2 separate regions of the Homo sapiens genome follow, and region 1 is linked to region 2. The links come from fine-mapping of genetic effects on gene expression. A gene starts in region 2. The other region holds a variant in brackets. All regions are shown on one strand. Distances are between the middles of the regions.

Evidence for each region. PIP is the estimated chance that this variant, and not a neighbour inherited with it, causes the effect.
Region 1: its variant is the best candidate, but not a certain one, in a credible set for the expression of SKOR1 in thyroid (GTEx, PIP 0.66).

What each region holds. Positions count from the first base shown.
Region 1 is chr15:67,797,490-67,801,871 of GRCh38, forward strand. All of the region lies in intron 21 of MAP2K5 (mitogen-activated protein kinase kinase 5), which reads left to right. Among named protein-coding and RNA genes, the nearest start is that of SKOR1, 26 kb to the right of the region's middle. The variant G/A (reference allele first, on the strand shown) is at 2,252.
Region 2 is chr15:67,822,823-67,827,204 of GRCh38, forward strand. SKOR1 (SKI family transcriptional corepressor 1) reads left to right here and starts at 2,687. Exons shown (of 9, transcript NM_001365915.1): 1 at 2,687-2,887; 2 at 3,114-4,382. The coding sequence starts at 2,781. It overlaps LOC124903570, which reads left to right and starts at 555. Exons shown (of 4, transcript XM_047433429.1): 1 at 555-617; 2 at 1,137-1,221; 3 at 1,817-2,580; 4 at 2,691-2,762. The coding sequence starts at 555. The coding sequence ends at 2,762. RefSeq lists an enhancer at 3,955-4,382.

The DNA.
Region 1 (4,382 bases), 25 kb before region 2:
AGATATTCTGTTGCCCTCTAACTTCTACTGTTGGTGGTAAGAATCTCCTGACTGCCAAATTGCTACCCTTTCTAGGCAACATGTGTTTCTCTTTGGTGCTTGCATTTTCACTATAGTTTTTCTAGGTATAGATTTTATATTTATTTTACTTGGAAATCACTGGTTTTTTTTAAATTTGAGAATTCACATCTTTCATTGGTTCTTTTTTTTTGAGACAGAGTCTCACCCTGTGGCCCAGGCTGGAGTGCAGTGGCGTGATCTCGGCTCACTGCAACCTCTGCCTCCTGGGTTCAAGCAGTTCTCCAGCCTCAGCCTCTGGAGTAGCTAGGATTACAGGCATGCGCCACCACACCTGGATAATTTTTGTATTTTTAGTAGAGACAGGGTTTCACCGTATTGGTCAGGCTGGTCTCGAACTCCTGAGCTCAGGTGATCCACCCGCTTCAGCCTCCCAAAGTGCTGGGATTACAGGCATGAGCCACCATGCCCGGCCTAAAATGTTTTCTTACTCAAGAGGTAAGGAAAGCAGAGGACAAGGGAGAATCCATCCTTCTGAGCATTGTGTCTTTAAACCTCCATCACCACACAGCCATCAATCACCCCCAGAGACAAACCTTGAATATCTAGACACTTGTCACTGGCCCCATATTCACAGTGTGGACATGCTGCAGACTCCACCTTTCAGGGGTGAGTCCTCAGTATCATCTGGAGCAGATGTCCATTCTCCTCTGGCATCCTCCCTCCTGATCCCTCTGGGCATCTGCGTGGCCCAAAACTGCCGGAGGCAGCCAGCATATCCCCCACTGTACAGCCTGCCCAGTCCTATCCAAGGCCCCTGCCAGAGCAGCCACCACAGCCCCCTTTAAACAGGCCAGTGGCACAATTCTGCCATTCACAAGGATCAGCTTCCTCCGACAAACTCATGAGTGTCGGCACCCCAAGTGTCTAGCCACCTCACCATGGCCCACTGGAGTCATCCTGTGCCCCATCCAACACCGTACAACACTGGTCCTGCGGCTGCTCTGTAAGTACAGGCCCTAGAATGACTCACAGACACCTCTGGAAACATTTTTTTTCTCCCAGTGGTCCATTTCTGGCCTATTACTCTGTGTAGAAACACATAGATCTGCTCAGATGAAAAGTGGAGAGCTGCTTGACCCCCTTAGGTGCCTGCGTACTGTCTAGGATGGCTAGAGGTAAGCAATTTGCTGCTAATAATTGAATATTTGGGGAAAAACATCTATTTCTATAGCAATTATGAAGAATAAACTCAGGAAGGTTGATTGAAATGACATGTCACAGCTGCATACCACTTCCCAGGTCTTAAAAGGAAATGAAGGGCTGGCAAGGAACCCCCACCCCCAAATATGGAAAAGCTTTAGAAATCAGAGGCCAAGACAGCCGGGCACGGTGGCTCACGCCTGTAATCCCAGCACTTTGGGAGGCCAAAGCAGGTGCATCACGAGGTCAGGGGTTCAAGACCAGCCTGACCAACACGGTGAAACCCCATCTCTACTAAAAATACAAAAATTAGCTGGGCATGGTGGCGGACACCTGTAATCCCAGCTACTCAGGAGGCTGAGGCAGGAGAATTGCTTGAACCTGGGAGGCGGAGGTTGCAGTGAGCCGAGATCGCGCCACTGCCCTCCAGCCTGGGCGACAGAGCGAGACTCCGTCTCAAAATAAAAAAATAATAAAAATAATAAATCAGAGGCCAAGAAAGCATGTTCTCAGAACAAATGCCTTGTGTGGAAAACTCTGCATTCGTGGCATTTGCCCAGGTATGCTCGCTATGTGGACAGGAAGACTCCACATCTTTGGTGCAAGCACCTCCTCTCACCCCTGTGCCCTCAAGTGCAGGACCTGTGCTCTGTGTGGAGGAATAACCCTCACCTGCCCAGAGTATATCTGTGAAGCACCACCCCAGGGTCAGGTGACTTCATTTGGTCCTTACAACCCACTCCGGGAGGAAGAGAGAGCAGGTGGTATTTGGTGTGGGTGAGGAAGCTGCAGACAGCTGCCCTGTGTTCAAAACCAGCTGACAGATGAGACCCAGAAATGATGGAGAGAAAGTATCAGCTTTACTTCTATACAAATCTGGATTGGAGGATGTATTTACAAGTGTGGCCCCAGTGGCCTTGCTACGCAGAGGTGAACAACTGCAGGCCTCCTGCAGGCTTAGAGCCTGCCTGGAGGCTCAGCATGAGATGGCAGGCCAGACAGATCTGCCCAGTGGGCCCACCCACCCAAT[G/A]TTGCCACTCCCTCCCTGGGGACAAGGCTCAGGAGTGTTACAACAGCAGCAGTACTTCCATATAGAATGAAGCCAGGAGAAGGGAGGCCCCCTCCACTCTTTGGTATTATCTCTTTTATAGGCGAGGCCCTAGTGGGATGGCCAGGGGAGGGCTGACCGACTCTTAGCCAGGGGCCCTTGCTGTCACTCCACGCAGAGTGGGGGGCGGTGGGGGGGATTGTTATTGTGATGCTTTGGCTTCCTCTTGCTGAGTCACTTATCAGGTCCTCTCCTTCCCTGGCCATTCCTGTTGATTAGCCTGGCCACGCCCAGCCTGGAAGGAAGAGTTGGCCCCAGGGATAGTTATGATTTATTATCTCATGTAATTAATATTATCAGGCTGCCCACTATCCTGCCACTTGTCAGCAATTCAGCAGACAGTGGAAATCTGTGCATCCTCCCATAAATTATTTAACGTCTCTAATCTGAAGTTTTCTCCGGGGATTAGATTGGTAGCTTTAAAACTTTAACAGTGGAACATGTTTTATTATGTAAAATTAATGCAAGACTTCAATATTAATGTAGAAGTGGGGTTTTTTTTTAGCATGAATGTATTAGTATCCATTGTAGACACTTCTTTTTAAAGTCATCCATGAGACTTAAAGGACAAAAAATTCTGAGAGCCAGGGTCACAAGGGCCAGTGGCAATCTCATACCTACACACAGCTTATTTCTGTATATTGTCTCAGCACAGTGTCAAGGAAATCCTCACTCACCTAAGTTGCCTTCCCAACTTAGGCATCCATCAAACCAATGTAGATGCTTAACAAAGGAATAGCAGAAATGTTTTATTTTACAGTTAGCCACTGACAGCAATGACCAATTGTTCATATGAATCGTTTATGGTAAATATATTGGTCAGACAAATGGTACTCAAACCTTATGGGAACTGACACCATCAGAAACTCAGAGCCATGGACCACACTGTATCCCCCACCCCGATGTACGTGATGGGGCTCAGTGTACCTGGGCTTTGGTGCACTCACACAGCTTTACACATGCATGTGTACGTCCTAAGTGGACGTCTTTTTTCAAATGACCAGTGCACCACAGCAGCCCTCCTAGCCCATGCTTGCCATGTAAGAAGTTGAATAATATGCACAGATCTAATAAGCGGACTCTAAAAGCTGCAAAAAGTAACACCACAGTACAAGGTAACAGATCACCAGTATTCAGTGTAACCCTTTGACCATAGTTGAGTGTATGTTATTTTTTTAAATCCGTTTTTAAAACTGTAGCTAAAAATTTTCTTAACAGAATTTGAAACCGCTGCAGAGCCCCCAAAGCACCTCACACCCTATGGCTCCGCTGGACTGTGAGATCCCATCTAGTCCTAACACTCCATTAGTGTGAGAAGGGACAGAAGTGTTATCACAGCCAAGCGGGCTGGAATCCTAAAGGGAGATGCATAGAGCCTTCAAGCAAGGCTCACAGGTCCAGCAATGAAAGGCAAAGGGATGGGCAGTGGGTTGGCATGTGGAGGTCCCTTCGGCCTCTCAAATCACCATTTACAGGGCAGTCACCTGATCACAGGGCTGCCCTGTCCCAACAGCAGCTTGTTGGAGTCTTTACTAGGCCAGGCTTACTGCTTCAACAGGTTCATGAGTCCTTGGCCTCCTATCCCATGCAGCATCCTTGGTGGGAGAGGATGTGCTTGGTGCTCACCCTGAGGCAGAGCAGTCCTGTGGTCCAGAGAGCCACCAAATGTCTAGAGCAGCCACAGCTTATGGAGCCATCTCCCCAGAGAGACACCACCAGTAGGCAGGCAGTGTGGTGTCTTCCATGGTAGAAGAGTGTCCTGGGTTTAAACTCTAACTCTGCCACTTTCTCCATGACCTTGCCACATAATATCAAGCTTCCTAGAGCTTTAGTTTCCTTTATAAAATGGGGGTGCCGGGAGGGTTCAGGAGAGCTGTGGTCAGATGTAAGGCATTCAGCCAATGCCTGTACACAGCAAGTGCTCAGTAAGTAGATGTATACATACAGAATATAGAAGTCACCTTTTCATGAGGGCCTACCACATGCAGGCATTGCACCAGGCCCTGCAGCCACACCAGCAAGTTATTAAATTATTCAAATGCATTATATTCTC
Region 2 (4,382 bases):
GGAGCATGGGAGAGGCAGATCTGCTCCTTCCCGGGTGCCATCCTCGCTGCCCTGCACCCAGGTCCCTGTCCCGGTCTCTGGTGACCCTACTGGTTCCCGAGGGCCACTCTAGGCTCCACCACCCTGGCCCTCGCCTGCGGCCGGAAAGTGAAGTACTCCTCCCTGCGCCCGTTCCTCTTGAGTCCCCCTTAGCCCCATCACCCGGTTTTGGCCCAGACCAAAACTGGCTCCTTGGCCGGGAGCACTGGGCCCTCCCCACTTCGTTCTTGGGGACAAACTTTATGGCCCCAGGGCCTTTCCTCCCTCCTGGCCTCTCCAGCTAGAGCGGGACGCAGGTGCAGGGTGCTGGACGCAGGTGTGCGGCCGCTTACCTGGGGCGTGCAGGCCTTGGGCTGCGGGGAGGCGGCGGGCGCCGCGCGTGGCCCGCGGGCGGGCGGACCCGGGGAGGGCGCTAGCGACTGCGCGGGCGGTGGGTGTGGCGCCCCGGCTCTCAGCTGTCAGGCGCGCCTGCCCCGCCACTCGGGCTGTGACCGCGCCGTCCCCGCCGCCGCGCCATGCGCTCCAGGCTTCGGCCTCTTCTTCCGGCCAGTCCCCGGCCTCGGGGTCAACGGCTCAGGGTTCGCATCTCCGCGCCCGGGGTCCCGGCGCCCCGTGCCCGCTGAGAGCGGGAGGGGCCGCGGGTGGGAGCGCGGAGAACCAGGGAGCACGGCTGTGCGCGCGCGCGGGGAGGGGCCGCGCCGTCACCCGGAGAGCCCGGCGGATCCCGGACTCCCGCCCGCCGCTCCTCCCGCCGCGCACCTCCGCTCACCGCTCGCCCGGCTCCAGCCGCCGCCGCACTGTGAGTACCCACGTCCGGTAGCCCGCCGCCCCCGCGCTCTGCTCCTGCAGCTTTTTTTTCGTTTAGTTCTGATTTGGGCTCCTGTGGCTGTTGTTTTTATGATTATACCTAAAGACACCACCGCCTCGCTCCCACCACTGCCAGTCTCCCGCTTCGCTGCCCTCCCCAAGCTCGTCCATCTAGCTCCGGGAGCCGACGGGGGTTCCTCAAGCTGCTCTGGCTGCTGCTCCTTGTCGCTGCATATGGCTCTTCGCCTGTGCTTTCCGCTTTGGCCCCCGAAATTCCGTTCCTTTCCTAGGGACCCCCTTCTTCTGACTCCGGGCCCGGACCCCCCTCCTCTCACTCAGGGAAAACCGCGCAGGGACCCAGGACCCTCAACTGGGGTACGCTCTCGGCTCGGGCGCTGTCTTCACTGTATGCGGGCCAGGCATAGTTGCCGATTTCGAGAAACCGAGAAGCTGTCATTTCCCAGCGCTGCGCGCCCTCCAGCCACCTCCAGGAGGGCGCGAGGCTTGTCAGCCGGGGAGTTAGGACAGTGTTTTTGCCTCCTACAATGATATAAAGGACTTCAACGCGAAATAAGGGTCAACTTATTTTAGTTCGATCCTCGGAGATAAAGATGAAACAGACAGATAATACATAAATAGCTTGATACTTGAAGAAGGTACAAAACAGATGAGAGAAAGAGGAACGAGCCGGCAGAGACAGCTCAGGGACAGATAAGATCGACAAATGAGGGTCTCCTAGACAAATAGAGAAGAAGGGAGAGAGACAGATAAACAGAAGATTCCAGTCTCCTTGCTGAAGGCTTTTGAACTGGGATCCCCTGTCTGGAGCTGCCCCTCTGAAAACGGAGTTACATTCAGGGCCGACTGCAGGGGAGGAGCCCTCAGGGTTGGGCTGCCCTGGCCGCAGGAGCGCCTGCAGCCTTGGGCCGGATGGGAGCCTGGCTTGTCTGAGGACATGTGGCTGGGTCAGGCGACCTAGAGGGCCCCAAACATCAGTCCCCAAGTACCCCCGCTGCTGAGGTCTGCCTGCACAGCTCCCTCCCTGCCTCAGCCAGAAAGCAAAGTGCAAGGACCAGCAGCAACTTGTGTGCCTGGAGCCTTGCAATGGCTACGAAGATGGCTGAGATTCCTTCTAGCCCATATGAGCCGGGACAGCGAGGCATGAAGGATACTCAGAGAGGTGATGCCCCTCAAAGAGGAAGCCCAGAGCCCCGAATCCTGCAGTTGGCCCGAGTGGGAAACGTATATCTGAAGGAGGAAAGCTCAAGGAGTGGGCGACTGGAAGCTAAGAAGTGGATCCCAACAAAGTTCCTTGAGAACCTCTCTGTCCCACACGTTGACCTCGGTGGAAACCAGCTTTGGTCTGGAATACAGCTAAAAATGCAGAAAATGTGGTTAGAACTGCAGGATCCTGGTCTCACTAATAGCTGGAAAGAAAACGGTTTATATATCCAGCCGAAATCTTTCTGCTCAACGAACGCGGGCGCCAGCCGTGAGAGGAGAAGCTCGGGTTTGTGGAAACTGGCAATGTTGTCCCCTGAAGCCGGCTCGGGCACCAAGCTGGGTGCGGTGGGGGCCGCGCTAGGTCCGGGTGCGCACCGAGCGCTTTGGAGAGGGTCAGGTTCAGCACCGCGAACAGCGGTAGCCTCCGCCTCTCTCCTTCCCTGGCAGACACGGTTCCCTCCTCCTTCTCCTCACCCCCCTCCTTCTCTTCACCCCCCTCTACCCCCTGCTGTCTGGAGATGGGCAGTGACCGCCCCTCCCCCCTCCCCACCCCTCCTTGCACTGCCCCCGCCCGCCCGCGTGCATGCGCGACTGAGCAGAGGGGCGGCCGATCCCCGAAGTCCGGGCTTCAGGACCCGGGCCGGCAGCACCGGCTGCGAGGGTTGCCGAAGGCGCACGGATCTGGGCGCTGAAAAAGCCAGGATTTGGCAATGGCTTTGCTGTGTGGCCTTGGGCAAGTCACTCTGCGTATCTGGGTTTCACTTCCTTCCCAATCCGAAAACGGGATTGGGTTCCTTGCAGCCCGGGCATTCCTGAGGTCTCCTTTACCCCTTCTCCTCCCCCAAGCCCCGGGGGCTGTTGTTAACGGCGCCAACATGGGTCTGAGTAACAAAAGACGCCTGTCCAGGGGGTGAATGAGTTTGGACTCCCCACTGCCAAGTATCCCCCGCGCGCCCAACTCGGAGCGCCCTGCTGGGCGGGCCCGAGCCTCGGCGGCGGCGCTGAAAATGGCTCATCTGCTCTCTGCTTTCTCTATTTCGCAGGAGCGGCGGCATGGAGGCTCTCACCACTCAGCTGGGGCCGGGGCGCGAGGGCAGTTCCTCGCCCAACTCCAAGCAGGAGCTGCAGCCGTACTCGGGCTCCAGCGCTCTCAAACCCAACCAGGTGGGCGAGACGTCGCTGTACGGGGTGCCCATTGTGTCGCTGGTCATCGACGGCCAGGAGCGCCTATGCCTGGCGCAGATCTCCAACACCCTCCTCAAGAACTACAGCTATAATGAGATCCACAACCGCCGCGTGGCCCTGGGCATCACGTGCGTGCAGTGCACGCCGGTACAGCTGGAGATTCTGCGTCGGGCCGGGGCCATGCCCATCTCGTCGCGCCGCTGCGGCATGATCACTAAGCGAGAGGCCGAACGCCTGTGCAAGTCGTTCCTGGGCGAGCACAAACCACCCAAGCTGCCCGAGAACTTCGCCTTCGATGTGGTGCACGAGTGCGCGTGGGGCTCGCGTGGTAGCTTCATCCCTGCGCGTTACAACAGCTCTCGTGCCAAGTGCATCAAGTGCGGCTACTGCAGCATGTACTTCTCGCCCAACAAGTTCATCTTCCACTCGCACCGAACACCCGACGCCAAGTACACGCAGCCCGATGCCGCCAACTTCAACTCCTGGCGTCGTCACCTCAAACTCAGTGACAAGTCGGCCACAGACGAACTGAGCCATGCTTGGGAGGACGTCAAGGCCATGTTTAATGGCGGCACGCGCAAGCGGACCTTCTCCCTACAAGGAGGCGGCGGAGGCGGTGCCAATGGCGGGTCGGGTGGGCAGGGGAAGGGTGGTGCTGGCGGCGGTGGCGGCGGTGGCCCAGGGTGCGGTGCAGAGATGGCCCCAGGCCCGCCGCCCCACAAAAGCCTGCGCTGTGGCGAAGATGAGGCTGCCGGGCCTCCGGGGCCACCTCCACCCCACCCGCAGCGCGGACTTGGCCTGGCGACTGGAGCTAGTGGCCCGGCGGGCCCAGGAGGGCCCGGTGGCGGCGCCGGCGTACGAAGCTACCCGGTGATCCCGGTGCCCAGCAAAGGCTTTGGGCTCCTGCAAAAGCTGCCCCCACCACTTTTCCCCCATCCTTACGGCTTCCCTACGGCCTTCGGCCTATGCCCCAAAAAGGACGACCCGGTTTTAGGCGCGGGCGAGCCAAAGGGCGGTCCTGGCACTGGGAGCGGCGGCGGCGGCGCGGGGACAGGCGGGGGTGCGGGGGGCCCGGGAGCCAGCCACTTGCCCCCGGGGGCAGGGGCGGGCCCGGGCGGCGGCGCCAT